Linked DNA regions of Homo sapiens: all the other regions are linked to region 3. Evidence: fine-mapped QTL for protein levels in blood plasma. Region 3 holds a variant in brackets. A gene starts in each other region. All regions are shown on their reverse strands. Region 1 holds the start of VEGFC (vascular endothelial growth factor C). Region 2 holds the start of CCL28 (C-C motif chemokine ligand 28). Region 3 overlaps ZBTB16 (zinc finger and BTB domain containing 16).

Evidence for each region. PIP is the posterior inclusion probability: the model's chance that the variant is causal. Protein levels are from antibody-based Olink assays in UK Biobank. Linkage for the fine-mapping came from a reference panel and not from the study's own genotypes, which makes the PIPs less certain.
Region 1: VEGFC starts here. The variant in region 3 is fine-mapped to the plasma level of the VEGFC protein (UK Biobank, PIP above 0.99).
Region 2: CCL28 starts here. The variant in region 3 is fine-mapped to the plasma level of the CCL28 protein (UK Biobank, PIP above 0.99).

Annotation. Positions count from the first base shown.
Region 1 is chr4:176,788,154-176,799,021 of GRCh38, reverse strand. It overlaps VEGFC (vascular endothelial growth factor C), which reads left to right and starts at 6,100. Exons shown (of 7, transcript NM_005429.5): 1 at 6,100-6,857. The coding sequence starts at 6,711.
Region 2 is chr5:43,407,308-43,418,175 of GRCh38, reverse strand. It overlaps CCL28 (C-C motif chemokine ligand 28), which reads left to right and starts at 5,785. Exons shown (of 3, transcript NM_148672.3): 1 at 5,785-5,923. The coding sequence starts at 5,860.
Region 3 is chr11:114,077,453-114,088,320 of GRCh38, reverse strand. The region is part of intron 2 of ZBTB16 (zinc finger and BTB domain containing 16); the gene reads right to left. Among named protein-coding and RNA genes, the nearest start is that of ZBTB16, 23 kb to the right of the region's middle. The variant C/T (reference allele first, on the strand shown) is at 5,421.

The sequences.
Region 1 (10,868 bases), not on the chromosome of region 3:
TCCTTGAGCATTTAAGGGCAAATAGGAAACTGAGTCCTTGACCCTCATTTGGAAGAGCGTCACTGATTTCCTACTTCCTTTTTTTCCCCTTTAGTTTCATTCCGTGAGGGCTTGGAGGTCTAGCAACAGGATGATCTTCCTTTCCAGTTTTGCTTGTATGTTAAATTTCCCTATTTCTGACATTAGGCCACTCAGAGAAAGTGAAGCAAGAGCTGGCACTGCACATGTTCCAGGACCTACATCTGAATGTTTTCTATAGGTGTGATGGAGCATCCCCCTGAGGTTTCCAATGCTGTCATTTTTGTTTTGGTGCATAAACTCCAAAAGTTTTGTCTAAAATTTATAGCTTTTTTAAGTTCCTCTGGTTTTACTCTGAAATGTGGAGTCTCTTAAATCATACTCAAGGTATTCACACTGCCTTTTCCAACACATTTTGTTGCATTTGAGGTTGATAATAACCTATAAATCAGTTGATAGAGATCTGGGAACCCTGAATTATGTGTTCCTAGAACTATTGCAAATTTCTCTGTAAATTTATACCTACCTTGCATAGACTTTGGAAGTTTTTGAAAATGACGTTTACCTTAGACCCAACCCAGGGCTTAAAATCTGCCATAATGAGCTTATACTGATTTGGTCAACTTTAAGAGCCAATTGAGCATTTAGTGTTTCTAGCTGGCCAGAAGAAAAGGGACATCAGAAAGAGTGTCAGGGAAGGGGAACTTGGAGGGCAACTGGGTGAGAGAACAGGAATAGTAAAGGTAAAAGCTTTTTGAGTCAAGTGGTGATTTGGGCAGATCTAAAAAAGAGCTTTTCACATTTTTTCATTTGCGCCTTCCGTGGAACAATTACTGAAGCAATTGTGGAATCTGTATTTTTATTGTAAGACTTCTTATATCAATCAGAACATACATATCATTGAATGTTTGGAATTTCACTCTCTTTCCATAAGGCACCTCTCAAATGAACAGTTTTGTTCTTACAAAAGGTTTCTCAAATGGCCTCTGAAATTCTAAATTAATGTTGGTAAAATTAAGCTGTTTAGACAGAGATACATAGTATCAGTTATAGTGCAAAATACATGTAGGAGGCAGGAATATGGCTTGGAGGGGATATGAACTTGGGTTTAATCTGAGACAAAGGCAAAATGATCTGGCAATGGGTGGTCAAATGAGTTGTTTGTGTACCTCATGCCCTTGGCTCCCCAAACTAAAGGTTAGGTAATCTCCAGTGGCAAATCTGATAAATGTGCAGTTTGGGAAGACGGAAAGTTTGACCAAGAGATCTCATTCAAAATCAGTGTCTCACAGACAAAACAAGACTTCAAATCGTTGTATAAGCTTTTGATAAAGTTTATGGCAATATCTGTCTAGTCAATACCAATCCTTCTGGGCATCTAGTCCCAAGGGATGGCTCAGTGAATTGACTTAACAGGACCCGTGCTTATTCTCTTTCTTATGAACTTCCTTTTTTTGACTCCCATGAGAAAATTATGAAGGCAGCAGGGATAAAAAGCAATAGTAATAAGGCAGATATCTATTGAGGATAAATTTGTTCAAGTCTGATCAAATAATCAAAGGGTTCTTGAAAGGAGATCTTTTAGCATTTGGTAGCTTGATAAAAAGAAACTGGGACTGAAATCTAACAGAAGACATAACCCTTCATTGCAGTCAGAGTGATTCCCCCCACCAAGCCAGGAAGCTCAAGAGGCCTCAGTGATTTGCACTATTTTTGAATTTAGGATCTTTGCTTGAGCTACTAGGGAGAAGGATTTCAATGGGACCTCCAAGTTGTTGTACACCCGAAAATATCAGTAGAAAAGTTTTCAATAAACAAAAGTTCCATTTAGCCGAACCTACAGCAGTAAGGGAGAGTGCCACCTGGACAGGGTCTTAGGGTGTCTTGGGTAAGTCAGAAGCAGAATAGTTGTAGAGCTTTGGAGTCTGGACACGAGTAGTTTAAGGTGGGTCTTTCAAAGTGGGGAATTGAGTAAGATTGGGCAACGTTCATGATCTAGTAGTTTAGGATCAGTTAACATCTGTAAGTGAGAGTTTGGGTAAGAAAACTGTCATTAATAAGCAGGCTGTTTACCAGAGTCAGAATATTATTATCTTCGATATATTGTTTTGCCAGCATTTCTTGAAGCAAACACTGAATTTAAATACTGGATTGCAGTCTTATCTTTTCCAGGCTAATGTTTCCTAGAAGAAACAACTAAGTCATGTGTACATAACTGGTTCATAGTTTTACCTAAGTCATGTTCACAGCTGATCTCAATTCTTAAAGCCTATGATTTTAATATCAGAAAAAGTAGAACTTCAAATAAAAATATCAGAAGTTAAAAAAATGACATTGTATACTACCAAGAAGAAAATTAGATCAAAATGATATAGTATCCCATTATGTTAAAAAATAACAGGAAGAACTACTGTCAGAAACAGAAAAACATGTCAACAATTATAACTGGAGATTTTAACGTCATTCCCAAACAAGATTTGAACATTATAATAAGCTCAAAATTAATACCCAACAAAAATAAAGCACACACAGAATTAGTTGCAATGATCAGCCATGTCCAGGACTACAAAGAAAGCCTGAATGCATTTCTAAAAGCAACATCATTTATAGCAAAAATTAAATATAATAAAATTAGAAATTGATAAAAATCATATATCCCTAAACTAAGAAAACACAAATAATTTGGGGGTTAAAAATATAAACAAATTAAGATATATTTGCAACTGTTTGCCAAAGGAAGCACTACGTATCAAAATTGAGAAATACAAGTAAAGCAGAATTTAGACAAAACTTGTATTTTATTGATCGACTGATTGATTGCAGAGATGGGGTCTTGCTGTGTTGCCCAGGCTGGTCTCAAAGTAACTTCAAGTGATCCTCCTTCCTCAGCCTCCCCAAATGCTGGGATTACAGATGTGAGCCACCACACATGGCCCGAAACTTGTATTTTTAAACTAAAAAGAAGAAAAATGAACTAAGCATTCAGCTAAAAAAGCTTGAAATGAAGCAACAAAGTAAAACTAACAAAGCAAGAAGGTAGGGAATAACAAATGAGAAATAAAGTAGATGGTCAGAATGGATATTAGAGAATGTACAATGGATATATTATCATCATTATTTTGCCATCCAAAACTATCATCTCCCATATCTACTTGGGAGGCTGAGGCAGGAGAATAGCTTGAACCCAGGGGTTGCAGTGAGCTGACATGGTGCCACTGTACTCTAACTGCACTCCAGCATGGGAGACAGAGCGAGACTCCATCTCAAACAAACAAACACACACACACACACACACACACACACACACACAGACACAAAACACAAAGAACAAAACCTATCATCAAAGAAAACAAAAACTCAATATGTAAAAGAGGTGTTATTCTGGCTGGGGCCCTGCTACCTCTCTTTCTCCACTGACTGAGCAATGCTTTTTGAATAACCAGATTTAGAAGACCTGTTGTAAAATAGGTCTTGCATGAAGCTAGTGATGAACTCACAAACCAGTGAAAAGGACTTTCTCAACCTTTAAAATCTGCTAGTGGCAAAAAGTGTTTCCAGGGGGTAAGGAAGAAAAAAAACCAAAAAGTCCTGAGCAACTATTCGTTTTTACCTTAAGACATTCTGTGTGTGTGTGTGTGTGTGTGTGTGTGTGTGTGTGTGTGTGTGTGTGTGTGTGTGTGTGTTTTAAGTAGAGACGGGGTTTCACCAACGTTTGAAAATATTTATCATGGTCTCCCTAAGATGGACGGTGTTAGCTAGGATGGTCTCGATCTCCTGACCTCATGATCCACCCGCCTCGGCCTCCCAAAGTGCTGGGATTACAGGCGTGAGCCACCGTGCCCGACCAACCTTAAGACAAACAACTACTGCATGATTGTTTTTGGAGACCTTTTTTTTATTCAAATAAACTTTTTGCCAGCATTTTCTGACTCAAAGTATAGCAGCAGGAAGATAACACTTTTGTGAGAAAAAAGTTTGAATACAGCTTACTGCTGTATTTAAATGAAACAGTAGTTAATATGATATTAATATATTTTGGATATATTTTGAGTTTGTTGATTTTCCAGTCTTCACCCGCTGCTAGGCCTGTGGGTGTTGGAAATGCCTGTGGTTCTCAATTTTGTTTGCCTATTAGAATCCTGATGTCCAAGCCTTACTCCAGTTAGACCAGTTAAGCCAGAAAGGCAGAAGGTGTACTCAAGCATCTGTTTTTTCAAAATCTCCTTTTGTGATGCCAAGTGCAATCAAAGTTTAGAATCATTGTAATAGCAAATGGTTGAATGGAAACTCCACCTTCTATTCAAATCCTACCCCAGTCTGCCCTTAGCTGTTCCCTTTTCACAGATCTATCAATGTCTGAAGATAACTATGGCAGGCTGATCAAATATGCATAGAGCAGGAAGACAGCAAGAGAGTGATACACTGACCATGTTCCAAATCACAAAACATCTCAACAGGCTAGATCATGGACCGAGTCTGATGGGATGGAATTTCATAAAGATACATAAAAAAGCATCTTGGATACAGTAAACTTAACTCCACAAATACAGGGGAATTTAGACGTGACTAAGTAGCAGTACATATGAAAAATTATTGAGGAATTTTGTTGACTTTAAGGGTAGTGTGAGTCAACACTGTGATTTGGCTGCCAGAAAATAAACTCAATCCAAGGCTGTATCAACAAAGGCATACTGTCCATTCTGCATGCTCATTACAGCACTAAGTACCGAGCCATGTTCTCAACCGCATACTTCATGAACATGGAAAGCTAACAGTATGGTTAAGGGGGGAAACTGGAACTGTCATCTTGGGGAATAAAAGGGATATTTAGCCAGGAGTAAAGTTAGCTTAGGGAGACCATGATAAATATTTTCAAAATATTTGAAGGACTCAGTTGTGGAAGTGAGATTAGATTTATTGTGTAAAACTCCAGGAGTCAAAAGCAATAGAGAGATAGAAGGAAATGCTTTTCAGCAGTGTTGCTCATCAATAAAGGGAGTGAACAGCCACACAGAATGGAAGGTTCCCTGTCCTTTGAGATATTTAAGCCTTCAAGTAAATTATGGGTGAGGAGTTTCAAATCTAGAGTTGAACCAGATAAGAAAGTCTCTTCTTCCGGTAAGATATTATGGACCTATAACATCTGTGTACTTAAAAGTAGATTGGGAGTGAAAGGCAGACTTTTGATGTTCTGTACACTGTTGAAACCCCTTAGCGTGGTCCTCTGTAACCTGCTCACCCTGCCCCAAGGAGGCAGCTAGCCAATGCCACCAGCCCAACGGAAACCCCAGTGCTTTTCCAATGGGGAAATGCAGTCACTTTTCTTTGGATGCTACACATCCTTTCTGGAATATGTCTCACACACATCTCTCTTTATCACCCCCTTTTTCAAGTAAACCAACTTCTTGCAGAAGCTGACAATGTGTCTCTTTACTCTCCACGAAGATTCTGGCCCTTCTCTTCACCTGTCAGAAGTTTAGGATTCCAAAGGGATCATTAGCATCCATCCCAACAGCCTGCACTGCATCCTGAGAACTGCGGTTCTTGGATCATCAGGCAACTTTCAACTACACAGACCAAGGGAGAGAGGGGACCCCTCCGAGGTCCCATAGGGTTCTCTGACATAGTGATGACCTTTTCTTGGAACTTTTACAACCCCCAGGACATTTCCAAACTTTGAGCAGGGCTCTGGGGGCCAGGCGTGCGGGAGGGAGGACAAGAACTCGGGAGTGGCCGAGGATAAAGCGGGGGCTCCCTCCACCCCACGGTGCCCAGTTTCTCCCCGCTGCACGTGGTCCAGGGTGGTCGCATCACCTCTAAAGCCGGTCCCGCCAACCGCCAGCCCCGGGACTGAACTTGCCCCTCCGGCCGCCCGCTCCCCGCAGGGGACAGGGGCGGGGAGGGAGAGATCCAGAGGGGGGCCGGGGGAGGTGGGGCCGCCGGGGAGGAGGCGAGGGAAACGGGGAGCTCCAGGGAGACGGCTTCCGAGGGAGAGTGAGAGGGGAGGGCAGCCCGGGCTCGGCACGCTCCCTCCCTCGGCCGCTTTCTCTCACATAAGCGCAGGCAGAGGGCGCGTCAGTCATGCCCTGCCCCTGCGCCCGCCGCCGCCGCCGCCGCCGCTCAGCCCGGCGCGCTCTGGAGGATCCTGCGCCGCGGCGCTCCCGGGCCCCGCCGCCGCCAGCCGCCCCGCCGCCCTCCTCCCGCCCCCGGCACCGCCGCCAGCGCCCCCGCCGCAGCGCCCGCGGCCCGGCTCCTCTCACTTCGGGGAAGGGGAGGGAGGAGGGGGACGAGGGCTCTGGCGGGTTTGGAGGGGCTGAACATCGCGGGGTGTTCTGGTGTCCCCCGCCCCGCCTCTCCAAAAAGCTACACCGACGCGGACCGCGGCGGCGTCCTCCCTCGCCCTCGCTTCACCTCGCGGGCTCCGAATGCGGGGAGCTCGGATGTCCGGTTTCCTGTGAGGCTTTTACCTGACACCCGCCGCCTTTCCCCGGCACTGGCTGGGAGGGCGCCCTGCAAAGTTGGGAACGCGGAGCCCCGGACCCGCTCCCGCCGCCTCCGGCTCGCCCAGGGGGGGTCGCCGGGAGGAGCCCGGGGGAGAGGGACCAGGAGGGGCCCGCGGCCTCGCAGGGGCGCCCGCGCCCCCACCCCTGCCCCCGCCAGCGGACCGGTCCCCCACCCCCGGTCCTTCCACCATGCACTTGCTGGGCTTCTTCTCTGTGGCGTGTTCTCTGCTCGCCGCTGCGCTGCTCCCGGGTCCTCGCGAGGCGCCCGCCGCCGCCGCCGCCTTCGAGTCCGGACTCGACCTCTCGGACGCGGAGCCCGACGCGGGCGAGGCCACGGTAGGTCTGCGTTAGGGTTTGCGGAGAACCCGAGAGTTTGCGTTAGGGTCTGCGGCGGACCCGAGAACCTGCGCGGGGGAAAGTGTGTGTGCTTTAAGCTTGTGTACGTGGGATCCAAAGTTACTGAGCTCAGTGCACGCTGCTTTGGAGAAAAATCTTCTTCTTTTTAAATAGAAAGTTGTTACTAGAGAGGCAAGCAAGTTACACGAGTGAAGGGCCCGGAGAGGTGCCCAGTGAGAGATCCCGAAATCTATTTCAGACTGGTTTCCTCTGGGGCAACCAAGGGGTCTTGAACCCTGCCCAGTCAGCGGGGCTCTGGAGAGTATGAGTTCATTTTGGTCGGGAAATGCTCGTTTCTTTCCCCAGCTGATTCATGGGACTCCAAACAGATTCTGGGACACTGGTGATCAGTCAACCCAGCCTTACTTTCCTGGAGTGTTCATAGTCTGCAGAGCACCAGGCGCTGTGAGCGACTTTAGAAAAAAAGTGTCAGGGACTTTAGTAACCAGGCTCCAGAGCTTTCAGAGTTCACTTGAAGTTGGTCAGACTTGAGATGTAACGGGAGATTAGAGTCAGTTAGATCACAATCAAGCAATGCAAGGCTTGTTTCAACTTTATAAGCTCTTCATTCCTAAAATCTGGTCATGAGATACTGCAAACTAAGTTTTTTTTTTTCTTGTTTGGGTTTTTTGTTTGTTTTGTTTTCTTTTAAATAAGAGGTGTTTAATCCTTTGCCTGAAAATGTTGCCAAAATACTTTTGAGGCATCCTGATTTTGAAAAAGGATTTGTGTGTGTTCCTACTTCTTACTGGCTCTTCCAAAAGAGTATATCTTTATCTAAAAAGTTCATACCTGCCATAACCATATAGAGTATGCTTAAGAGAGTTCCTAAAGAAGTTATATTCGACATTTCAGTTCAAACACTTGCAGTACCCCTTGCTGGAACTATACTGCGGTAGTTTATTTCAACTGGTGGCAAGTGGAGAGGTACCTGTGGTGTGTTACAGTCAACTTTAATTTGACTGTTGATTAACACATACACAATGTGTAGAAAATAGCCTTATATTTTGAAATATTTTATTTATATTTATATTTTGAAATACACTTAAAGATTGAGAAGACTAATTTTTGGAAATCAAACTACCTTTGCATTTAAATTTTGGGAAAACATTAAAATGTTGGAATGTGTAATAATTTAATATAGGGGTTAAAGGAATGCCTCTTGAGTAAAAACAATATACATGAAATAGAACAGACTGCATTCTGTGAATCACAAAAATAATTTTCAGTGCCTATACTTACATTGCCGTAACTATAGTGATGAAAATATCTTTCTGTTCTTAAATACCGCAGAAATGTAATAATCGGCTCAATAACGCTTCTGATAATTTGAGTCCTTGATTTTGCAGTACCTATTTGCTATTTCTGCAAAGTCAAAACTAGTAAAAGTATGATTTAGTAAGGCAACATCTCTGTATTGGTTACGGTCACTTACTTTGGTTTACAGTAAGAAAATGTGCAGTAGAGAGTAAAATGAGAAACATTCCCTGATAAGCCAATAGCCTGTATGAGAGTCACTCACTGCTGGGTGAGTCTAGAATTAATGTACCTTGAGTGTGTGTGTGTGTGTGTTTACGTGTGTTATGTATAGGTATGGGATTGGAGGATTAAAAAAGTTAACTTATTTTTAACTTTCAAAAGTGTCTTCGTTGGTGATGTAAAATTTGCCATTGGTGATATGGCAAATTTTACCATTGCTGTGAAAATCACTATGCATTTTTGTTTGCAAATGTCGCTTTTCATATTTAACCATTTTTATATTCTGTATGGTGAATATGGGTTAGTATTCTGCATGTGATGTGGGTTCCTTTCCTATGTGATGAAACATCATTTCCCATATGAAACATCATCTCTGAGTTCCATAGACCACAAAGCAGTATTTCATTGCTCCATTAAAGTGTCGTTCCCCAGTGGGTGAATAGAGCCTTGACAGGGCATGTGTCATTAATGCATTCAGTGAAACTGCTGTGTCCTTGCTATGAAACATGTCACACAACTGCCAAGAAACTGATATGAAGACTCTATGTCTCTCCCTAGTGGCCTGTACAAGCACCACATTTAGATTTAAGCACTAGAGAAGAACTGGGGAGAAATCAATTGTTAATTTTCTATAACTACATGAACCCCAAGAAAATATTTCAGAAGGTAAACAGAAGATGCTAAATATCTATAATCCCAATAGATGCAATGTTTTCATAACTTTCACCTAGGAACTTTTTTAATATTTAAAAAATCAAAAATAGCACACAAACTATGAACCAAGGTTAGCCATCCAGCCCTTCAGCCCACCCGTAAAGCCATGCAAAAGATTGTAGGTAAAAATCACAAATAGAATGAAGATCTCCTTATTCCTCGACTTATATTTGCATTTACTGGATTCCTATTTCTAGTTATTTGTGGTTGCATGACTTACTGAAAAGTCTTAAAATGTTTCTCTGAAGGATGTTAACACAAACAAGACAGTGTCAAAAAAGTAAGGCAGGCAAAAGTAAAATTAACTGGACATGATGGGAACAAAAGAGAATAGCAAGTCTGAAGCTGTTCTATTTACAATTTTTCTTATAGTATATGATTATGTTTGTCAACATCTACTCTTATAAGAGATTTCTGACATTCCTCTGAGTGATGCTACTTATATGAGGTTTTAGATATAGAAAGTTCAATTCATCTTTCATTTTGATTTCCACTCCATTATAGTCTTCTGAACTATGAATATCTGATTGATAGCTATTTATTCACAAGACAGTTATCAAAATTGCTTCATAGAAAGCAGTTAATTACTGATCTTAGTGGCATATGTCTAAGACCCGTAGATCTCTAATCCTGTCCTTTTCAGTTGAGTTGAGAAAGACGGAGGGTAGTGGATTTAGATTTCATTTTGGACTTCCAGTTCTGGTTCCGGTTCCTCTTGAGAGGAAGGTCCTGGCCTCCTAGTTATCTCCATGTGTCCAACCCAGAATGCTGTTTCTCAGCTCTTGCTGGGGTTTTCACCAACAGAGGAACTGGCGTGAGACTAATGAAGGTTTCCCGAATCCCTGGGACTGTGCTTGCCTGCTTGCCTTTGGCAGTCCTGGGGTTGTTATTGAGAGTAGGAGTTTATAATCATTATCTGTGATGTTCATAACGTGTGTTAAGCACTTCGCAAAGAGCTTTGCAAGTTAGTTTTGTTTTTCACTACACCTCCATAATATGGACATTATTTTATTTCATTAAGGATGATGAACCCAAGATCTGAATGACTTAACCAGGAAAAAGAATAGATGTTTTTTTCCTTTTTTTCTTTTAAAAAAAGTTTTATGGCATATACCAACAGTCCCCGACTTAGAATGGTTCTATTTAGGACTTTTGGACTTTACAATGGTGCAAAGTCGATAGACATTCAGTAGAAACCATACTTCAAGGTTTGAATTTTGATCTTTTCCTGGGCTAATAATATGCAGTAAAATACTTTCTCTGGATGCTGGACAATGGAAGTGAGCTGTGACCAGTCAGCCATGTGATCGTGAGAGTAAACAACAGGTACTCTACTGTATATTAAATATATTTTCAACTCAGGAGGAATTTGTCAGGATGTAGCCCCATCGTAAATCGAGAAGCATGTATGTTTTAGAGAAATGTGGTAATGGGTTTGGGCCTTTGGGCCTGTGATTCAGACTCCTTTCAGCCCCTCTGCTGGTCTCCTTTGGCACACTATAGCAGCGTGCAGGAAGGCAGAGAAAAGCACTGCGTGTGACTTTGCAGTTAGGGGCACCTTGTTGCATTTATTTAGGTCCTAATTCCCCACAACGGGACAAACGGAAATAAACCCAGACTTTCTTCCAGGCTTTACCACATGGTGTTCGTTTGACTAAAGATAAATTATAAATGACCTAATCCATGGTAATATTATAAGAACGACTGCTTAACTGGAGGCTTAACAAGATTTTCTGACAAACGGTTTTTCAAAGTTGT
Region 2 (10,868 bases), not on the chromosome of region 3:
CCCAGCACTCTGGGAGACCAAGGCGGGTGGATCGCTTGAGGTCAGGAGTTCAAGACCAGCCTGGCCAACATGGTGACACCCTGTCTCTCCTTCAAATACAAAAATTAGCAGGGTGTGGTGGCACATGCCTGTAGTCCTAGCTCCTTGGGAGGCTGAGGCTGGAGAATCTCTTGAACCTGGGAGGCAGAAGCTGCAGTGAGCCAAGATCGTGCCACTGCACTCCAGCCTGGGTGACAAGAGTGAAATTCCATCTCAAAAAAAATTTTTATATATATAGATACACACATATATATATATATTCCATCCATATACTAATTTTCCAAGACAAATATTCAAGAAAGCTTCAGTGGCTTAATTTTATTTTGCGAAAGTTACTGTTTGGAAATCATCCTTCTAATCCAAGCAGGTCATTTTGCCCAGTGCAGAGATGGCAGCAGGTATTTTTATGATCATTTGAGATTTACAATTTACTTCTTTTTAAAGTAAAAACTATGTGGTTCTTCCTGGTAATTTTTTTTGTTTTTTTCCTGGAAGGTTACATCTAGATATTCTTAGCCAGGACCATTTCATAAATGGAAAACACAAAACCAGACATAGTTTTAGGTCCTCAACTGTTTCATTCTATGGCTCAACTATCCTCTGGGCCCTAACGGCACACATTTCTGTCTCCTCATTTTCTTTTGCAGAGTCCCTGTGCACAGAGAAAAATACTTAGGTAATCAAAGTTATTCATCTGAATCCACCCCTTTGGGGCTCCTTCCTAGTTTATCGGTGGTCCATTTCTGCCTAGTTAGCATCCCTCTCAAACACAGACACACATGCCCCATAATCATAAACTGTCCTGTGTTCTCTGCAGACAAAAATCCCATGGTTCAGTTTTTCTCTCACTCCAAACAAAACTGATGTGCCCAGCGTTCCTCTTATTCATGTCTTAGTACAAAAACTTAGTAAAAAAAAATGACATGGCATAGGGTTTTTAGTGGTTTACAGGTTCCTGTTGGCAGATGTCAGGCTTGCTTTTTAGCACCAGGGTAACATAATACCCTCCCATAAGGCTGTAATTCCAGTGGTGGTAATTTCATGAGTGCTTCAATAGTTTTGGTTCTACATGTTATAGCAGCTGTCTTCTAGTAACCACTACCCAACCCACGAACCTGTTCCAGTGCCCCCAGGAAAGTGTGGATGAAAGGGAGAGTGCTAACAACCCAAGGAGGAGTCCCTTTGTTTTCCAAGTCCCTGGATTCTGTCCCTATGTCTTCCTGCTGGCAGGGGCAAGGTGACATTTCCTAGCAGAAGAAATATGCACACAGTGAAAGAGAAGCTGTCTTGTCAAATACAAAAGCAAATAAAAGTACACGAGTGAATACAGGGGGCCTAATTGCAGGCTCATTCAAATTCAGTCCAGCCTTTCTTGTCAGTGCCCTAATAACTGTGTTATACAGTGGCATGATCATAGCTCACTATAGCCTCAACCTCCTGTGCTCAAGAGATCCTCCCACCTCAGCCTCTCAAGTAACTGAGACTACAGGCGCATGCCAGTGCCTGGCTAATTTTTAAAAAAATTTTTAGTATAGCTGAGGTGTTGCTATGTTGGTCAAGCTGGTCTCAAACTCCTGGGCTCAAGCAATCCTTCCACCTTGGTCTCCCATAGTGTTGGGATTACAGATATGAGTCACCACACCCAGCCTCCTGACTCTTATCTTCAGAGCACACGGCTTTGGTCCAGAGGGGCTCCTGTGGTTATGGCTGGTGTGTGTAATTTCACAGGTCTTTGTCACCTCCACAGGTTGGTTCTCTGTCCTCCTTTATCAAGACCTGTGGTAAGGTCCCTTTGCTTAGTGGAAAGGCTGGAATGCTGCTGTGGGTCTTCTCATTCAAGAGGTCACTATCTTTGCAAGTCTGTTGCTCTCCAAAGCTCCCATTCCTTATTATAACTCTGGTTCTTGATAGTGAATTGGAGCTTGGTTAAATGTAACTTGATAGCTGGGGTAAATTTGGACACCTGCTCTTGATCTTCAAAAGCAGCAACACCCAATGCAAATATGTGATCTACCCATGTGATTTGAAATATTCTGGGTTTCAATTACATATGTAATTGTTTTAGTCTGTTTTATGCTGCTATAACAGAATATCTCTGTTTGAGGAAAAAAACTCTCGAACTGTTTTTCCTCTGCTCTCATACCACAAAAATCATCAACACAGAAGACTTCTATAACCAAATATGTAGGGGGTAAATTGGTGCATACACCAAGCAGCGGACACCAGCTAGGTGTCCTCCAATTCAGTTCTGACACTATCTACCAAGAGATAGTGCCAGAACCAGAGGTTGAGGGCTCAGTCCCATGAGATCACCCCCTACTTCCCACCAGTCACAAGTCCAGACCTCCAGAACTTCTGAACAGCTGGCTCCAAGTTGGGGTTCCCACAACCTCTCTATGGGTTTGATTAATTGGCTGGAGTATGGGGGAAATTCAGCCAGATATCGGGCGAAATTCACCCCCAATATTTCACGTAGGTTCTTTTCTATATTCCCTAAGTGTTGGCCAGTCTGAGAAATAAAGGGACAGAGTACAAAAGAGAGAAATTTTGAAGCTGGGTGTCCAGGGGAGACATCACATGTTGGCAGGTTCTGTGATGCCCCCTGAGCCGTAAAACCAGCAAGTTTTTATTGGTGATTTTCAAAAGGGGAGGGAGTGTATGAATAGGGTGTTGGTCACAGAGATCACGTGCTTCATAAGGTAATAGAATATCACAAGACAAATGGAGGCAGGGCAAGATCACAGGATCACAGGACCGGGGCAAAATTAAAATTGCTAATGAAGTTTTGGGCATGCATTGTCATTGATAGCATCTTATCAGGAGACAGGGTTTGAGAGCAGACAACCAGTCTGACCAAAATTTATTAGGCAGGAATTTCCTCATCCTAATAAGCCTGGGAGCACTATGGGAGACTGGGGCTTATTTCATCCCTACAGCTTCGACCATAAAAGATGGCCACCCCCTGAAGTGGCCATTTCAGAGGCCTACCCTCACTGACACATTCTCTTTCTCAGGGATGTTCCTTGCTGAGAAAAATAATTCAGCGATATTTCTCCCATTTGCTTTTGAAAGAAGAGAAATATGGCTCTGTTCCGCCCGGCTCACCGGCAGTCAGAGTTTAAGGTTATCTCTCTTGTTCCCTGAACATTGCTGTTATCCTGTTCTTTTTTCCAGGTGCCCAGATTTCATATCGTTCAAACACACATACTCTACAAACAATTTGTGCAGTTAACGCAATCATCACAGGGTCCTGAGGTGACATATATCCTCCTCAGCTTATGAAGATGATGGGATTAAGAGATTAAAGACAGGCATAGGAAATCACAAGGATATTGATTGGGGAAGTGATAAGGGTCCATGAAATCTTCACAATTTATGTTCAGAGATTGCAGTAAAGACAGGCGTAAGAAATTATAAAAGTATTAATTTGGGGAACTAATAAATGTCCATGAAATCTTCACAATTTATGTTCTTCTGCCATGGCTTCAGCCGGTTGGTCCCTCCATTCGGGGTTCCTGACTTCCTGCAACACTGGAGTGGCTCACAGAACTCAGGGAAATACTTACATTTAACGGTTTATTATAAGAGACAGTACAGAAGATACAGATGAAGGCCAGACATAGTGGCTCATGCCCGTAATCCCAGCACTTTGGGAGGCCAAGGCAGGAGGATCGCTTGAGGCCAAGGTATGGGGGAAGGGATGCAGAGCTTCCATGCCTTCCCTGGGCACGCCACCCTCTAAGAACCTCCACATGTTCAGCTATCCAGAAGCTCTCCAAACTCTGCCCTTTTGGGGTTTTACAAAGGCTTCATTACATAGGCATGATTAACAACCATGTAGAAATGTGATTAGACAAAAAGCACATAATCTAAACCCAGCAAGTCCTGCCTGTTCAGGCTTTTCTTGGCCTGTGTAGCATTCCTTCCTCTAGAGTATGGGACAGAACCCTTTCTGGAATGAGGATCTTATGACCCACAATCAGATTAGAGTCCTGCCTTGGGCAGGTGAAAGAAAAACAGAAGGTCAGAGAGAGATTCCGTTTCCTGAGGCCTGTTCCTGAAGCCTAAAGTGCCCCAACATTATAATATAAAAAAAAGACTGGGCTGGGCACAGTGGCTCATGTCTGTAATCCCAGCACTTTGGGAGGCCAAGGCGGGTGGATCACAAGGTCAGGAGTTCAAGACCAGCATCTTGCCAAGATGGTGAAACTCACTCCAGCCTGGGCAACAAAGCGAGACTCTGTCTCAAAAAAAAAACAAACAAACAAACAACAAAAAAAAACTGTAACAAGGGTTATGGGAGTTATAAGCCAGGAACCATGGATAAAAGCCAATATATATATCATAACACCACAACCCGAGACTGAGCAATTTATAAATAACAGAAATGTATTCTCTTACAATTATGGAGGCTGGGAAGTCCAAGATCAAGGCTCCAGTGATTTCAGTTTCTATTTCCAAGATGATGCCACTTTGCTGCATCTTTTGGAGAGAAGGAGCATTGTGTACTCACCTGGCAGAAGAGCAGAAGGTACCAACCCATTCCCACAAGCCCTTTTTATAGTAGCATTCATCCATTCATGAGGGTGGAGCCATCATAACCTAAACATTGTCCATTAGGCCCTATCTCCCAGCACTATTAGGGATTAATTTTCAACATGAGCTTTGGAGAAGAAAAAAATATTCAAACCACAGCAGTAATTTGAAAACATAAAAAGAAATGGGTGAAATTAATTTTAATAATATATTTTATTTAACCCAAAAAGTCCAAAATACTATCATGTAATCAATAAACAGTATAAACATTATTAACAAGATATTTTATATTTTTTTCTGTACCCAGTCTTTGAAATCCAGTGTGAATTTTATACCCATAGTACATCTGAGTTTGGACTACTCATATTTCAAGTGCTCAAGAGCCACATGTGGGCTAGCGGCTACCACATAGGACAACACAGTTCTAGAGGAAGCATGGCATGACTTTGGAGGTCATCTAGTCTGACTTGTTATTTACAGCAAAGTTAAGTACGTTGCCTGAGGTTATACAACTTATTAGTAGATGAGGAACAATTAGAATCCAATTATCTTCATGCTACCCCATGCTTTTATTCACAAAGCTGATTGGCAGCAAAGCTGCACTAGCGCTCATGCCTCTTCACACCTGCTCTTGGGCTCTTTTCTACAAGGCATTGCCCCCCTTCCTGTCTTTCTCCTAAATAAGCTATTGTAAAAAGCTTCACTGGAAACAATTTGGCTGTGAACCAAGACTAAAGTGGGGTTTAATACTTCCATATCTTTCCACAAAGATACATTTTTTATGACTTGTCACCCTTGTCCCCAGAAACTCATGGTTTCCATAAGCTACTTAAAAACTGATTATGCAATGGGTCTCAACATAAGTGTCCATCAGAATCACCTATAGAGCTTTTACAAAATTCAAATGACTGGTCTCCTACCTGGGAGTTCTGGTTTACAAATCAGGGAAAGGGGAGAGTCATTTAGATTGATTTTTTTTAATGTTCCCCAAATGATTCTGATGCACACCCCACCTCACAGTGACCCTGCCAGCTGCCAGATCTCCATTGACATCCCCTGACCCCCAGGCAGGATGAACACAAGTTAGGAGCTTAATAAGTCGAGGAGGAGCCTGGTCTTAAGGAAAGAAACATGAGAAATAGATACCCTGAACACCTCCCAGGGCGGGGCCACCTGGCTTACTTTTCCTCTGCACTTTCTCTGTGCCCAAGGACACCTTTAGCCTCATTTCCTGATCGAACAGCCTCACTTGTGTTGCTGTCAGTGCCAGTAGGGCAGGCAGGAATGCAGCAGAGAGGACTCGCCATCGTGGCCTTGGCTGTCTGTGCGGCCCTACATGCCTCAGAAGGTGAGTGGGGGCACTGGACACTTAGGCCTTCACTGGAAAGGGGGGTATCTCCCAAATCTGTGCTGGAAGGATTGAGGTGGGGCAAGAATATCTATCTCTTCAAGCAGGAATTTCCAATTGATTTCTGATTACCTACAAGAGAATGACATAGCTTTAAATTCTAGATCTCCCAGAAGTTTCAGGAAGGAACCTCATTCTAACAGGCATACTACAAATTTTTGCCACCTGGAGGATGAGGTCCTTCCATGTAGGTACAACTTCGAGCTATGTTTCCTTTTCTGAAGACAGTATCTTAGAAAATCCCCAGCTAGAGGCTGGAGTAAAGCCCCTACTATTCATCTGTCTTCCTCCACACCCCAACCTGCTAAACGGTCTGAACACAACTGTGCACATTCCTGGAGGGAAATACAGACTTGGCCAGCTGCGTTCAAATTAGGTAAGTTGTAAATTTCCTGAGCAAAGTCAGCTCTATGGATACAGAAAACTGAAACTTCAGTCTGACCTTTAAAAAGGGAGGGCAGAGCTGAGCACAGTGGTGCATGCCTGTATTCCCACCTACTTGGGAGGCTACGGCTGGAGGATAGCTTCAGGCCAGGAATTCAAGATTGCAGTGAGCTATGATCACACTGTGAATTGCCACTGCACTCTGAATTGCCACTGCACTCCAGCTTGGGCAACATAGTAAAACCCCATCTGTTAAAAACAAAAAGAGGGGAGGGGAGGGGAAAGAGAAGGAAAGGAAGAAAGGAAAGGAAAGAAAGAAAAAGAAGAAAAGCAGGATGAGGGAGATTGAACCATACAAATTATGTCAAAGAGAATTTAAATCGTGAGTTGCTAGCATGTATTTGGAGATTGTAACTGCATTTGAACTAGAGGGAATCTCTTCTAAAGTAGCACTCACTACTATATTCAGGAAACCCTAAGTGTCAGTACTTAATACTTGACCAATGACTCTTTTCCATTGTCATCTTTTCTTTAAGCTTTATCCTGAACAGATTCTCTAAGTCTAGAGCAGAGGTGGAATATAAGTCTTTGGTCTGCTTTTTAAAAATCTGAGCCAACATTTTAAAACTGAAAGCTTTCTCATGTACATACTCATACATACACACATACAAATTGGATTTTAAAGCTTCTCTTGAGAAATCAGATGTGGCAACAATGATTCCACCATACCATGGCAAGAACTGGCTAAAGCAGATGAGCCTCTGAAGTTTGCTGTATTAACTGCCTGGTCCCTGCAGGCATTTGCTTAGGGACTCCCAATATAGTCCGTCAATGTACTGGGCTTATACAAATAAGCAACAGAAAAAACCTGGACAATCTCTTCTCAATTTCTACTAATCTATCTATCTTATCAATATAAAGACAAAAATTTGTCACTTTATGTTTCTGTAACATTTCTCAGAAAAATTCACCATTGAGATTTGGGGACTCATTTTCACTATTTCTGAAAGGCCTACCTGCTAAGGCTTCACTCCTAGTTCTGGTAATTCCACCAACTCAAATTTTTTACATAAAACTTTGAAATGTGTACCTCCATCCAGCTTCCTGACCTACTCCCACCTGTCCCCACAGCGGCAGCTCTCCTACAGGAAAGGAGGGAGGGAACAGCAGGTCGAGGAGGCAGAGGGTAATGAGGAAGGCTCTGCCATACCCAGGACCCACCTTCACATGGGACTGAGTCCTGGTAGAGACGGTGGGGTGGAACGGCAAAATGCAGAGGTGTGTGAAAAGGTACGGCTGCTGGTGATAATAAGGAAGGGAGCCGAGAGACCCAGCAATAGCCTTTTGGGTTAGTCTCGATGCTTTACCTAAGGCAGTTTAGGCCACAGGAAAATCACATTGCCTGAGAAGCTCCAAACTTCTGTCATTTAAAAATAAGTGATACTGGGTAAAAATACACAAGTAGGCCTGAGAACAGTCGTGGAATAGAGGGGCAACGCCACAGCTATTCTTAACAAACTTCCACTCAAGTGTCCATGTAAGCCAGGTGCCCTGTGGGAGGCACTTAAGTGATTCTGGCTCCAGGGAGGGGGTGGAAAACCAAGTGGGGAGGGAGGAAGGTAGAGAACACTCAACAACTCAACAGTGCAGAGAAGAGGACAGGTGGCCTTGGCAAGGGGAATAGGAAAAAGGCCTGTGCCAGTTTGGAACTTTGGGAAATATATTTTGTTTCCTTGAGGCAGAAAGCTGTTCCCTTATCTTAATGGTGTCTTAAATGGCTATCTTGTTGTGATGGCTCAATAACTGGCATTCCCTAAGTGTTTTGCATAAATCAGGAAGCAGGTGACTTTATCTATAATTAAAAGCCTTGGATTCTGCCCAAAGGTAGGGCACACTCCACCTCTGCTGACGTGGCTGCTGGCTCCCAGAACTCAATACTGAATCCATAAACATGTCTATCATCCTGTTTCGGTGGCCCTGAGCCTGATTATTTAAACCCACAATCTAGGACTTTGTGGGCCTGGCTGTTTTATTGTACATTAAGATTAAGGCTCACTTGTGCCCAGCAGATTCAAGTTAGGAGGTTTTGCTGCAGTGAGTCCCAAATTGCCTTCCCACTGACAACCTTCTTTCTCAGAGTACAATGGCTACTGAATCACACCAATACTTGCTAGAGATTTGCTGCTTGCATCCTAAAACGTTTACCTTTTGTTTTAATCATAAGACTCTGGCTAGGGAAGGTTACCACGAATATACATTTGTGACTCAATGTTGTTCTGCACAATTGGGACTCCAATTGTGGTCCCTAAGAGGTCTGACATAGGTGGGACTACAGGTGCATGCCACCACACCTAGCTAATTTTTTGTTTGTTTGTTTTTGGAGATGGAGTTTGTTGCTCTTGTCGCCCAGGCTGGAGTGCAATGGTGCAATCTCGGCTCACTGCAACCTCCGCCTCCTGGGTTCAAGCAATTCTCCTGCCTCAGCCTCCTGAGTAGCTGGGATTAGAAGCGTGCACCACCACACCCAGCTAATTTTTGTATTTTTAGTAGAGACGGGGTTTCACCATGTTGGCCAGGCTGGTCTCAAACTCCTGACCTCAGGTGATACACCCACCTCGGCCTCACAAAGTGCTGAGATTACAGGTGTGAGCCACCATGCCCAGGCACACCTGGCTAATTAAAAAAATTTTTCTTGTAGAGATAGAGTCTCACTATGTTGCCCAGACTGGTCTTGAACTCCTGGCCTCAAGCAAGTCTCCTGCCTTGGCCTCGCTGCCTGTAATCCCAGCAATTGGGAGAATGAGGCAGAAAGATTGCTTGAGCCCAGGAGTTCGAGGCTGCAGTGAGCCATGATCGCACCACTGCACTTCAGCCTGGGTGAAAGAGTGAGACTCTCATTTCAAAAAAAAAAAAAAGTAAAAAATTACCAAAAAAATAAAATTACCAAAAATGTCACAAAAATTAAAGAATTTATCCTAATATTATGAAAGTTACAAATACTTAGTGTATTTTCAAATATAAAAATTTAAAGAATTAAAAAAAGGAAAGTCCCTCTTCATCATTCCTTTAATCCCTCTCCCCTCTCCAGAGGGTTCTGCATATCCTTCCAGAATTTCCTCTATGCATTTAGCAATGTGAACCCACACATACATCCACACCAATTTTTTTTTATTATACTTAAAGGTCTAGGGTACATGTGCACAATGTGCAGGTTTGTTACATATGTATACATGTGCCATGTAGGTGTGCTGCACCCATTAACTCATCATTTACAATAAGTATATCTCCTAACGCTATCCCTCCCCGCTCCCCCCACCTTACGACAGGCCCTGGTGTGTGATGTTCCCCACCCTGGGTCCAAGTGTTCTCACTGTTCAATTCCCACCTATGAATGAGAACATGCGGTGTTTGGTTTTCTGTCCTTGCAATAGTTTGCTCAGAATGATGGTTTCCAGCATCATCCATGTCCCTACAAAGGACATGAACTCATCCTTTTTTATGGCTGCCTAGTATTCCATGGTGTATATGTGCCACATTTTCTTAATCCAGTCTATCATTGATGGACATGTGGGTTGGTTCCAAGTCTTTGCTATTGTGAATAGTGCTGCAATAAACATACATGTGCATGTGTCTTTATAGCAGCATGATTTATAATCCTTTGGGTAAATGCCCAGTAATGGGATGGCTGGTCAAATAGTATTTCTAGTTCTAGATCCTTGAGAAATCACCACACTGTCTTCCACAATTGTTGAACTAGTTTAGAGTCCCACTAACAGTGTAAAAGTGTTCCTATTTCTCCACATCCTCTCCAGCACCTGTTGTTTCCTGACTTTTGAATGATTGCCATTCTAACTGGTGTGAGATGGTATCTCATTGTGGTTTTGATTTGCATTTCTCTGATGGCCAGTGATGATGAGCATTTTTTCATGGTCTGTTGGCTGCATAAATGTCTTCTTTTCAGAAATGTCTGTTCATATCCTTCACCCACTTTTTGATGGGGTTGATTTTTTCTTGTAAATTTGTTTAAGTTCTTTGTAGATTCTGGATATTAGCCCTTTGTCAGATGGATAGATTGTAAAAATTTTTCTCCCATTCTGTAGGTTGCCTGTTCACTCTGATGGTATTTTCTTTTGCTGTGCACAAGTTCTTTGGTTTAATTAGATCCCATTTGTCAATTTTGGCTATTGTTGCCATTGCTTTTGGTGTTTTAGTCATGAAGTCCTTGCCCATGCCTATGGCATGTATGGTATTGCATAGGCTTTCTTCTAGGGTTTTCATGGTTTTTGGTCTAACACTTAAGTCTTTAATCCATCTTGAATTAATTTTTGTATAAGGTGTAAGGAAGGGATCCAGTTTCAGCTTTCTACATATGGCTAGCCAGTTTTCCCAGCACCATTTATTAAATAGGGAATCCTTTCCCCATTTCTTATTTTTGTCAGGTTTGTCAAAGATCAGATGGTTGTAGATGTGTGGTATTATTTCCGAGGACTCTGTTCTGTTC
Region 3 (10,868 bases):
AAAATACAAAAATTAGCCAGGCATGGTAGCGCATGTCTGTAATCTCAGCTACTCGGGAGGCTGAGACACAAGAATCACTTGAACCCAAGAGGCAGAGGCTGCAGTGAGCCAAGTTCATGCCACTACACTCCAGCCTGGGCAACAGAGTGAGACTCTGTATCAAAAAAAAAAAAAAAAAAAGAAGTATCTGGCTTTATCTATACCTCTTCTGGTGTGGGAGCTCCAATGGAGGGACATATTATTTCCAACTGGATGCAAGGAGGAAGAATGCCCCAGGAAAGGATGCTGCAAGGAGAGGGCATTTACACTGAAGCATGAGAGATTTGGCCCTGTTGCGATGACCAGAGAAGGATATGGCATGGGAAGGGAAGCATAAGAGTTTACTCAACAGCAGCATCTGCTGAGTTGCCATATGCTAGAGAGTGGACTAAAAGGTTGTAACACAGATGTGAAAAAGATGGTCCCTGCCTTCAGGGGTGTACATTCTAAGAAATATGCAGAGAAAGGGATGAAGAGTGAAAATGTAGCTGGAATCTAGGATCCCGGATGGCTTTGAATGCCACGCTAAGAATTCTCTCGTTTCTTCTCTAGAATAGGCCATAGTGAGCCACTGCAGGGTTCAGAGCAGGAGAGCAACCCCATCAGAGCCCTACTCTGCTCAGGGAAGTGGGGTGATGAGCCTTGCAGGGGTGCACTGCAGGAAGGCTGGTGAGGAAATCAGGACAGCCATCTGGTTAAGTAGGCTGGAGAGGCAAATGGTGGATATGGAAGGCAAAGGGAAGACAGGAGCCACAGATGATGCCAAAGTCTGCAGTTGGGTGCCTGGGAAGAGGGCAGAGACCACAAAACATGAGGACACAGGAGACGATTCGAGAGGAAGGTGTTGAACTAGCTCAAACACATCACATTCTAGATCCTTGCAGGACTGGTGTGCCCGTGAGGCTACTGGAAAAGAATGTGTGAAACACAAGAAAAGACAAAAAACGAAAAACAACTAGAGGTAGAGATCTGGAAATCACCCACAGAGGGTTGCTTGTGGAAACCACAAGATTGTCAAGAAAGACACTGGAGAGACAGGAGAACTGGTAAGGTCATCTTCTTCTACATTCAGCAGAGAGGGTCACGGTTTCAACAGACATCGATGAACAACCACCATCTTTCCCGTGAGAAGAGAAACTACCAGCATTTTGCAGATGATGAAACAGACTCAGGAAGAGGGGGAGGTGGCCAAAGTGTTTGCCACTTAGAAAGTGGCAATGTCAGGATTCAAACACAGATCCCAGGGAGTTCCAGGCACCACATGGCACTGACCCTAGGGAGGGAGTTCCAGGAAATACCAGAGGAGGAGGGGGAGAAGTTGGCAGGAACAGGAGGGGTCAATGGAGCCAATACTGGAGTCTGGGAAAGTATTAGTTGGCGCAAAAGTAATTGCAGTTTTTGCCATTGAAAGTAATGTCTAAAATAGCAATTACTTTTGCACCAACCTAATACAGTGCTCTTGAGAACTAAGAGGTCACAAGCAACCTTTGAAAGAACAGCATCAACAGAGTTGAGGAGCTCTCAGGGCAAATGAAACAAGAAGTCCAAAGCTGGAGAGAATAACTCTGAAAGCACCCAAGTATTCCTTTTAATAGGATTCACCTCACAGGTGGTTGTGAGGATGGGATGTGTTAATGCAAGTAAAGTGCTTTGTCCATAGTAAATGCTCAATTAGCTATTATTTACTGAGTACCTACTATGTATTCAGCATGGTGTCAGCAGACAGCTGAGGGAGAGAAGATAAACCACAATCACTATCCTCATGGAACTTAGGTTGTGGCTGGGGGGATAAAACTTAAACTCAAACGAGGCAGCAGAGCTTATACTCAAATGGTGCAAACTGGAGATGGCACAGGAGACAGAAGAGGAAGCCAGCAAGCACCAAGACAGACAGACAGCGCTTCCCAGAGAAGCCTGACTTGAGGAGGTCTTGAAGGCTGGACAGGATGAGAGACACCAAGGAGAAAAAGAAGGACAATCCAAGTGCCAGTGGGGGTGGGGGAGTAGTGAATGCCAAAAACAAAAGCACTTCCGTTCCAAATCCCACTCTCCTGGCCACGCCTGGCTCCTCTGAGGCCCAGGGCTGAGTTTGCACTGCTGCGTAATGTTTGCAAAGGGTACAGCATGAATGTGAAAAAGGACAGGTGTGTGACTAGCCTAATGCCCCATTCAGCAGGCTCCACAGAGCAGGGCAGGAGTTAGTGGGCGTAAGAACTTCAAGCAAGCACCCAAGCCAGGCTGTCTGCAAGGCTCTTTACCACCACCACCCCCATCACTAAATACGTAGAAGGCTGAGGACATCAGAGGGGCTCTGCATTCTGAGCAGCCACATGGTCTCACACCCTCCCCAGTTTTGTCTTCCAATAATATCGCAATGATCCAACCCCTATCAAGTGCGCCTTACAAATGTCCAGAAAGCTAGCTTGGTATTCAAATCATTCTAGGACCTGGCCCCAATCCACTTTCCCTGCTTGATCTCCCATCCTACCCCATGCCCATCGCCCCATTCCAGCACACTACCTTGTATACAGGCACCTGCCCCCACCCATACACTGCCACACATTAGCTCATCTCCTACCTCCAAATGGCAGTTCCTGTCTCCACTTGTCCAAAGCCTAGCCATTCTCTAAAACCTGGCCAAATGCTACCTCCTCCATGAAGCCCTCCTGAATCTTCAATCAAAATTCAAAATTCAATTCCTCTCCTCTGCTCCCCCATACCTCACTTATATAATATTTAATCATACAGTCTGATATATATATATACACACACACACACACAAAGTCATACACATATGGCTGTCATTTCTGTTTTACAGTGAACTCTTACAGGGATTTATTAATTTCTCTGCATTACCCCCATAGCATTTAGCAACCACCTAGTACACAGTGATGCTCAGTAAATGCTTTTTGAATTGAATACCTATGGCTAAGGCCTCACTGTTTGGGGGACCTCCTCGAACCATGGGTGGCAATCCATTAGTGGGTCTTCATTAACGTTCTTAAATGAAATAAGATAGAATGGAAGAGAAGATACCAGAGCATATAGTAAAGATAAATAGAGTTTCATTGAACCTTTGGTTTGAGGTACGTTTGTCCATGCACTGGGCTGAGATGGAAAATGTACTACTTGCTGTGGGCCACAGCCTCCACTCTAAGATAAACCAGCAAATTAAAAACCCAACTTATCAGAGGTATCGTCAAAATCCTAACTTCTGAAGAATTCCTGAGGGTCACTACACACTCCACTCAATCACCGCCTACCACAGCTTCAGAACAGCATCATCACAGTAGGTTTTTGGAATCTGGACAAGAGTCCTCAATCATTGAACATGCCACAGGTCCCCTAGACTCTGCCCACTAAGGCAGGAAAGCACAGGGCTCCAAGGTGGGCAGATCTGAGCTAGCTTGATGACTAAAAACGGGATGCAGGATTTAACCCTTTGCTAACCAGACCATGTGCCTGAACAGCAGCTCATCTAAACATTGACTGTATTTTAAACCCAGAAAGCAACATTCCCAGATGATCCTGAGCAATAAGGCCTCCTCCCAGGATTTCTAACTTGAGGCCCCACGTGGAGAAGGGTGTCTAATCTGGGCTTGGAGGAACAGGGCTCTGGGATGATGCACGGAGTGGGGGCTCCCTCCCCTGCCTGACCCTGGCACCTGCTCCTTCTCACCCCTCTCATCAACCCCCACCCGCTCACCTGCTACCTGAGAATCACACAGCTGGCCACAGATCTCTACATTAGTTCAAAAAACCCTCCTCCTCCGGAGCTCTTATCCCTCTAAATAATGAATTTCTCAGCCCTAATTAATGCAAGAAAAGGGATGATATACATTTCTCTGTTGCTTTAAGTTACAGCTAGTTGGACACTCTGAGGGAAGAGCAGCCTCTAGCTAAAGGGTTAGATAAGCTAAAATCAATGTAAGCCACCGCCTCCAAATCTTTTAAATCACCACCTTCTCTCCCCCGACCATCTCTAAGCCAGACCCCTACAGTGGGCATGGAGCAATGTGTAAGCCTGGAAATGACCACCCATTCAAGCTAAAGGCAAGAGAGAGATCAATCCCCTACTGCCACCAAAAAATGAAATAAATAAAATAAAATAACTGCAGCCTCTGGGAGCAATCAGACAGCCAAGAACAAAGGAAATAACCTGAGAGCATGCAATGGAAACAATAGGATGGAGACACTCAGTGGACAGATTAGTAGAAACATAACATCTTAAACAATGGAGGTGAGAGCCTGGTTCTTCCACCAACGGATTAAAGCCACCTGGTTATGTCACGAAATATAATCACCCTGATGTGATCAGATGAAACAGTGATAGAAGATTTATCATCCTGGAAGTATCTGAGAGAGGGTTATAAGAATCATGAGAGGAACTAAAATCATAGAAGAGAAACTGCTGCCTAAATAAGGAAGCCATATAGTTACCTTATAAGTATCACCCACAGAGCAGAATTCTTGGCGGTGGGGCGGGGGGGCGGCATCAAGAATACTTTGAAAATGAAATGTCCTGCTCAAAGAACAGTTACTTCCCTCTCCTGGCTGCGGGGGTGGAGGGATCCAAGGGGAAGCTGGGTGGTACAGAACACGGGAGAGCCTCCGAAGTCCCTTCCAGCCCATCTCCCACCACAGCAGAACAGGGCAACCCCAGATGTCAGGGTAGTGGATTCTATCACCCTAAGAGGGCAGAGGGGAGAGGGCACAGTGCTAGGGCTCAGCTCATCTGAAAGGGCTGTGGGTGGCTGAGGAAGCTTGGAGGGGAAAGGCAGCTGAAGTACAATATATGTTCTACCACGGCCCCCTGGAGCCAGCGACTGGGACGTGAGACAAGTGGGCATGGCTCCTTTTCAAGCCAGAGTCTCCAAAACCAATTTCTTAAAGCTAGCCTCCAGTGGCCAGTGGGTTTCGGGCAGGGAAGGAGGATGTCTATACTGCAGGTTGAAGTTTAATTTATATTTAGGAACTGTTTGTTTTATTTGGTTTTGGGTTAAAGGTGGTAGGTGCCAAGCAAGACTATCCCCCTTTCAACTTCTTTTTTTAAAAAAGACAAAGAAAAGAGAAAAACAAAACAACCAAACACCCGTAGCCCAAGGCCATGCTGCGCTGTGGGCGGCCTACATGAGCTTCCTTTATCCAACCACAAAAAGGCATCCGTGGAACCAGCGAGGGGCCCTGGAACGGCGTTTCCAAGGCCGGCCCGCTCCTCCGTTGAGGTTAGCAGTTACCCAGGGGCCAGGAGCCACTCGGGCAAACAGCCCATGCCCCTCGTTACACAACGTTGGGGCCCTTATCTCCCCATGCCACTGTCGGTTTGCAGACATTGCGTAGTGCTACGACCACAGCCGAGACTGGCCCGCGGGAGATAGCGT[C/T]GCTGTTCACTATCAGGGAGGCAAGAGGGGAGACTGGGTTTCTATTAAAAGAGAGTTAGAGAGACGGGTAACAGTCCGGCAGACCAGCTTCAGAGTGTCACTTCCTTTGATCCTGACAGCTGAAGACCCCCTCTCCCCAGGCCCCTCTCCCAGCTTCCCCGCCCACCGAGAGGTGGCAAGGGTCCATTTCATGTCCTCTCATCAAATCTTGGTAGAGTGCCAGGTACAAGATACAGGGGAGAGGTCTCCTTAGGAGCTGATGATCACGCACTAAACTCCTTTTCAGACAGGCTCGTGAAGGCAGGGAAGGAGCAGGGGGCAGTCAGACACATGCCTAGTGGATGTCACATCAGTATGGAGCACTCCAGTCACGTCACTCTCCTTTTCAAATGCCTTCCAAGGCTCCAACTCTCCCGGGATAAAGTCCAAAAAGAAACAGCAGTTAAAACAAACAGCAGTTATATTTATTGAGCAACTACACTGTTACAGGCACTGTGCAGAGTGTGTTAAGTACACTACCCCAAATCCTCAGGCTATCCCACACAATAACTGCACTGTAGGAATGAAGAAGCTACAGTTCATGGTGTGTGTTGCTGTTGTTGTTGTTGTTGTGTTGAAATAGAGATAGGGTCTCACTTTGTTGCCCAGGCTGGAGTGCAGTGGCGTGATCATAGCTCACCACAGCCTTGAACTTATAAGTTCAAGCCATCCTCCCTCTTCAGCCACCCGAGAAGCTGGGATTATGGGCATGCACAGCTGCATTTTTAATTTTTTTTTTTTTTTTGTAAAGATCGTCTCGCTATATTGCCCAAGCCAGTCTCAAACTTCTGGCCTCACGCAATCCTCCTGCCTTGGCCTCCCAAAGCACTGGGATGACAGGTGTGAGCCACTGCACCCAGCCAGTTCACAGTCCTTGATGGCCAACATCACACAGTTTGCAAGTGGCAGCATGAAAATCTGAACCCGGGTCTGCTCAACTTCAAACTCATTTTCTCTCCATTCTTCATGCTGCCTTCTCTAATCTCTCTCCACGCATTTATAGCACCACAGTCTGACCCCAGCCTACCATTCCAGCATGAATCACCCTCATTCCTGCCAAAGAAAGTTACTCCTTGTTTTCTCCCCTGGCCCTGACCACAATTTTCCTTCTTTCTGTCCCCGTCTTCAAAACCTACTTATCCTTTAATATCCTACTCATGTGCTACTTCATCCAGGCTCCCAACATGTATCAAAATCACCCTTACACAGTTACGGACAGGACTGCTAGCTAAGTAAGGATCTTTCTTCCCCATTAGGAAAGCCCCAGGAGGGTAGACGTCTTGTCTATCTTGCTCATCACAGTATTCCCAGGGCCTACCCAGGTGCCCAGCAGACAGTAAGTGCTCAACAAGGTTTTAAAATTTAAAATGAATCACTCCAGACAGAAGTCATTTCAACTCTGAATATATATATCATAGTCTTTCCATTTCCTATTCTCTGTCATAGATATCAACATACATATTTTAACTCAAAGTATAAGCTCTTCAAGGAAAAGTCCCATGTCTTAGCAATCTTTGGGTCTCAAAACCCCCAACATAGGGCATTGTCTGTAAATCCTAAGGAGTTGATGTACATTAGTCTGCTCAGGCTCAGCAGCAGAGAGGTTAATGAGTGTCCCAGGAGGCAAGTCACCATGCCAGAAACCCCCCAGCATCCCTCACAGACAAAGATCTGAAACTGCTCTCAAGTCAGATTCTAGTCTTGCCTACCCCTTGGTAGAAGCAGAGAACAGACCTGGGCAGTCACAGGCAGGCTTGTGAAGGAAGAATTAAAGTGGGCTGGGAGTGAGGGTCCTGGTTTTGCCTCTAGCTTGCTGTGTGACCTAGGGAAAATCACAGAACCTCTCTGGACCTCCACTTACTCCTCCCAAATGAGCATGCTGCAATAAATGATTCCAAGGGCCCTTCAGCTCTGACTGTGATTCTTGGACACATTGAGAGCCCACGCCTGCAAAGCAGGTGGAGAGTGCCTTCCTCAACAGGTGGCAAGAGGAGGAATGGAGACAGGGACACTTAGACAACCTCTCTGTGCTATTCCTCAACCTTCCGAAAATAAACAAACCTTAGCTAGTGAATAAGCCAGTCCCTCTCGTTAGCCAGAACAACAAGCATGATATGAATATGGATCTGAAGTAAATAGAAGGGAGAAAGCAGATACTGAAATGGATTTTCAATAAATAACTTCCCTCTAGTTAAACCTGAATTTTTTCCCACATATGTATGCTTTCACAGATCCAGTTTGGGAGCATTCAAATTAGCACAACCTGGCCTTAAATACTGCACAAAACACATAGTAAGCATTTTGCTTTTATTTATGTCATCAATGGTTTCAATGGGAATGACTCATCCTTCCTCTTTAACACTCTGTTCTAATATGGTTTACTATAAATAATGCAGAGAGAGAGAGAGAGAGAGAGGGAGCACCAGCGAGAGCGAGCATGTGCAGCTCAGCACAAGGCCCCTGCACTGTTAGGTCACAAAAGAGCCGAGTCCAACAGACAATCCTAAGGTGAATCTTGGGCTCAGTGGATGGGCGAGTGTTGGTTCAATGGAGAGGAAAAGCAAACATTCCTCTCTCCACTATTCAAGTGTTCGGGGCAAGGAACATTGTCAGGAAAGGGGAAAAAAATACATGCTGAGTATATGCCAGGTACCAGGCTAAGATTTGAACACACAAGCTCCTTTAACCTTCCAGAGCCTTCCAAAGAGGCAGAGTCAGAATTCAAACTCAGGCCACTGTGCCTCCCAGGCCTCCCTACTCCCCGGGGTGTAGGGGGTCAAAACTCAATCCATTCTTTCTAGCCTCAACCAACATCTAACAGTGACAGTCCTGGTTTTTTGTTTTGTTTTGTTTTCTTTTCTGTTCTTTTAACAACAGAAGTGCCGCCCCGGAGCCCAAACTCACAGGAGGCCAAACCACAAATGCAGAAACATTACAGCAGTTAAAAGGAGTCTTCCCAGTCCCAGGCAATCCATGGCAGCGACTCCTTCCTCACTGGGAGTCCAGCCATAGTAGCTGGAAATCAAAAGCCCCTTGGCCTTGTCCACTTCCCACCTAAGAAGTGAGGCCAACACTCACCCCAGTGCTGAGCCAACAAGCCTTCCCCACACACCCCTTCCAGAATCTGCCTTCCGAGTCAGACACAGCAGCCGACAGTGCTTATCACTCACTATAGTCAACAGATTTGCTACTGCATTATTTTGACCATTTCCAATAGTCACATCTACCCTCCCAAAAGGCAAAGCAAAAGAATGCGGCACACACTTCAGAAAGAATTCCCAAACATTCCCAAACTCTGTGGGGCTGTGGCAGCATCACAGGATTAAGCAATCATTTATTAGAAATGTGGCTTCTTTAGAACAGCAGTAGCACTTTGCAAATGGAAACTTTTATATTCACAATGTACTAACATTATTCACCTATTATTTCACCAGCTGGCTGCTAGCACAGGGTTAGTACTATCATCAATTTAGCAGTGCCCAAAACAAAAGATTTCACTGGTTCCTTTCATAGTTTCTCCCCGGGCCATAACAGGGCTACAGCGCAATCATACATGTCTACCCAGTACACCTGCACTCTGCTATGCACTTTACACGTTTTTTATCCTCATTACCATGGACAAGGTGGTCATTTTCAAAAGAAAAGTAAACAGGGGCTCAGAGAAGCTAAGCCACTTGCCCAAGACATACAGATAGTAAATTCTGGAGCCTGAGTCTTCATCCAGGGTGCCTCCTTCTTCTTCTTCTTCTTTTTTTTTTTTTAATGAGACAAAGTCTTGGGCTGGAGTGCAACGGCAGGATCTGGGCTCACTGCAACCTCCGCCTCCTTCAAGCAATTTTCCTGCCTCAGCCTCTCCCGACTAGCTGGGATTACAGGCACCTGTAATCCCAAGCGATTTTCCTGCCTCAGCCTCCCCCGACTAGCTGGGATTACAGGCACCTGCCACCCAGCTAATTTTTGTATTTTTAGTAGAGACTGGGTTTCACCATGTTGGCCAGGCTGGTCTCAAACTCCTGACCTCAGGTGACCCACCTGTCTCAGCCTCCCACAGGGTGCCTCCTTCTAAAGCCAACCTTCTTCCCTTCATTCCATACTGTCCCTAGAAAATACCACGCCCGCCCCCTCCTAGAAAGTCTCCTTCTTGAGTGAGGAACCCCCTCCCCCTCAATTCCTGGGCTGTATTTCACTATCTTTAGCATCTCTTGGACTTTGAGCTAGCTGTTTCAACTTCCCAGTGAGTCTGTCCCAGTAGATGCCCCCTGCTCTAAATAGCACCCTCTGCGATCCGCAAACATTACAAGGACATCAAAACAAAGCTATCAGCTGGGTTCCTAGCTTTAGCAGCCAGTCTAAACTCTTTTGTTTGTTTCTCAGACAGCTTATTGACTAGGTGATGAGGTCAGAAGTTTTCTTTTCTCCTTGGCTCTTCAAGAAGCACCTGCAAAGTCAGGGAAGGTAGAAAAAGTCCACTCATTTAAGATTTCAGATGAACATCATTTTTCTGAGCATCAATTGCTTACCAGCCAACAACTTGTAGGGGTGGGAGACGACCAAGGGAGAAAAAGATGGGAACTTAAAAAGCAAAGATAACCTCCACCCTTTCCCATCTTGTATTAATGTGGGCATAGGCAACCCACTTGATGAAATGTTCTCAGAGACTCTGCATGTCCACATGAAGGAGGAGAAAAGTAGGTGAGGGCAGGAAGCTGATCAACCGTATGATAAATGCAGCTGTTGTATGTGACAAGCTACCTGTTTTCTTTCATCAGGCTCTTTCACACTTCTCCAGCCCACTAAAAGAGGGTCCTGGCTCCCCACCTGTCCCCTCCTTCATAACACACCACCCCTCACCCTGACCCCAACAGTTTATCTTTGCATATTGGAAAAACTGGCATTTATCAAGTAATCTACTCCTCATAGGTTGTTAAACAGACCACAGGGGTTATCAGTGGGGCTGATATAGGAAGATAAACAGCAACCTCTTATGCAAATAGCACTAAGAATGTGGGACTGGCCACAGGACAAAAGCAGAATTTAGGAGAACATGAATCTTAACACTTTTCTTCAGTTGCAACCCTGGAAACCCACAGGAACCTGGAGAAGGTTCTCTTGGGTGGGATTTCCCCTCCCTTTCTTGCAGGGAGGGGCAGGTGTGTCAGGAGGTGCAGCCTGCTTTGCAAGGCAAGGTGGCGGCTTCACGTCTGATGAGGCAACTCCTTTCTGTGGCCACAACCTTCTCCTCTGCGCAACAGCCGTTTCATTTTTTCTGAGATTTCGGACCCACTGGAACGTGCTTAGTTCAGGCTGAGGAGGAGTCGGACTAATTGAGAGAAAGAGAAGGTGTTCTCCCAGGTGAGAGTCGGGGGTCAGAGGGCAGTAGGAAAAAAAAATGCATAGAAAACAAGGAGT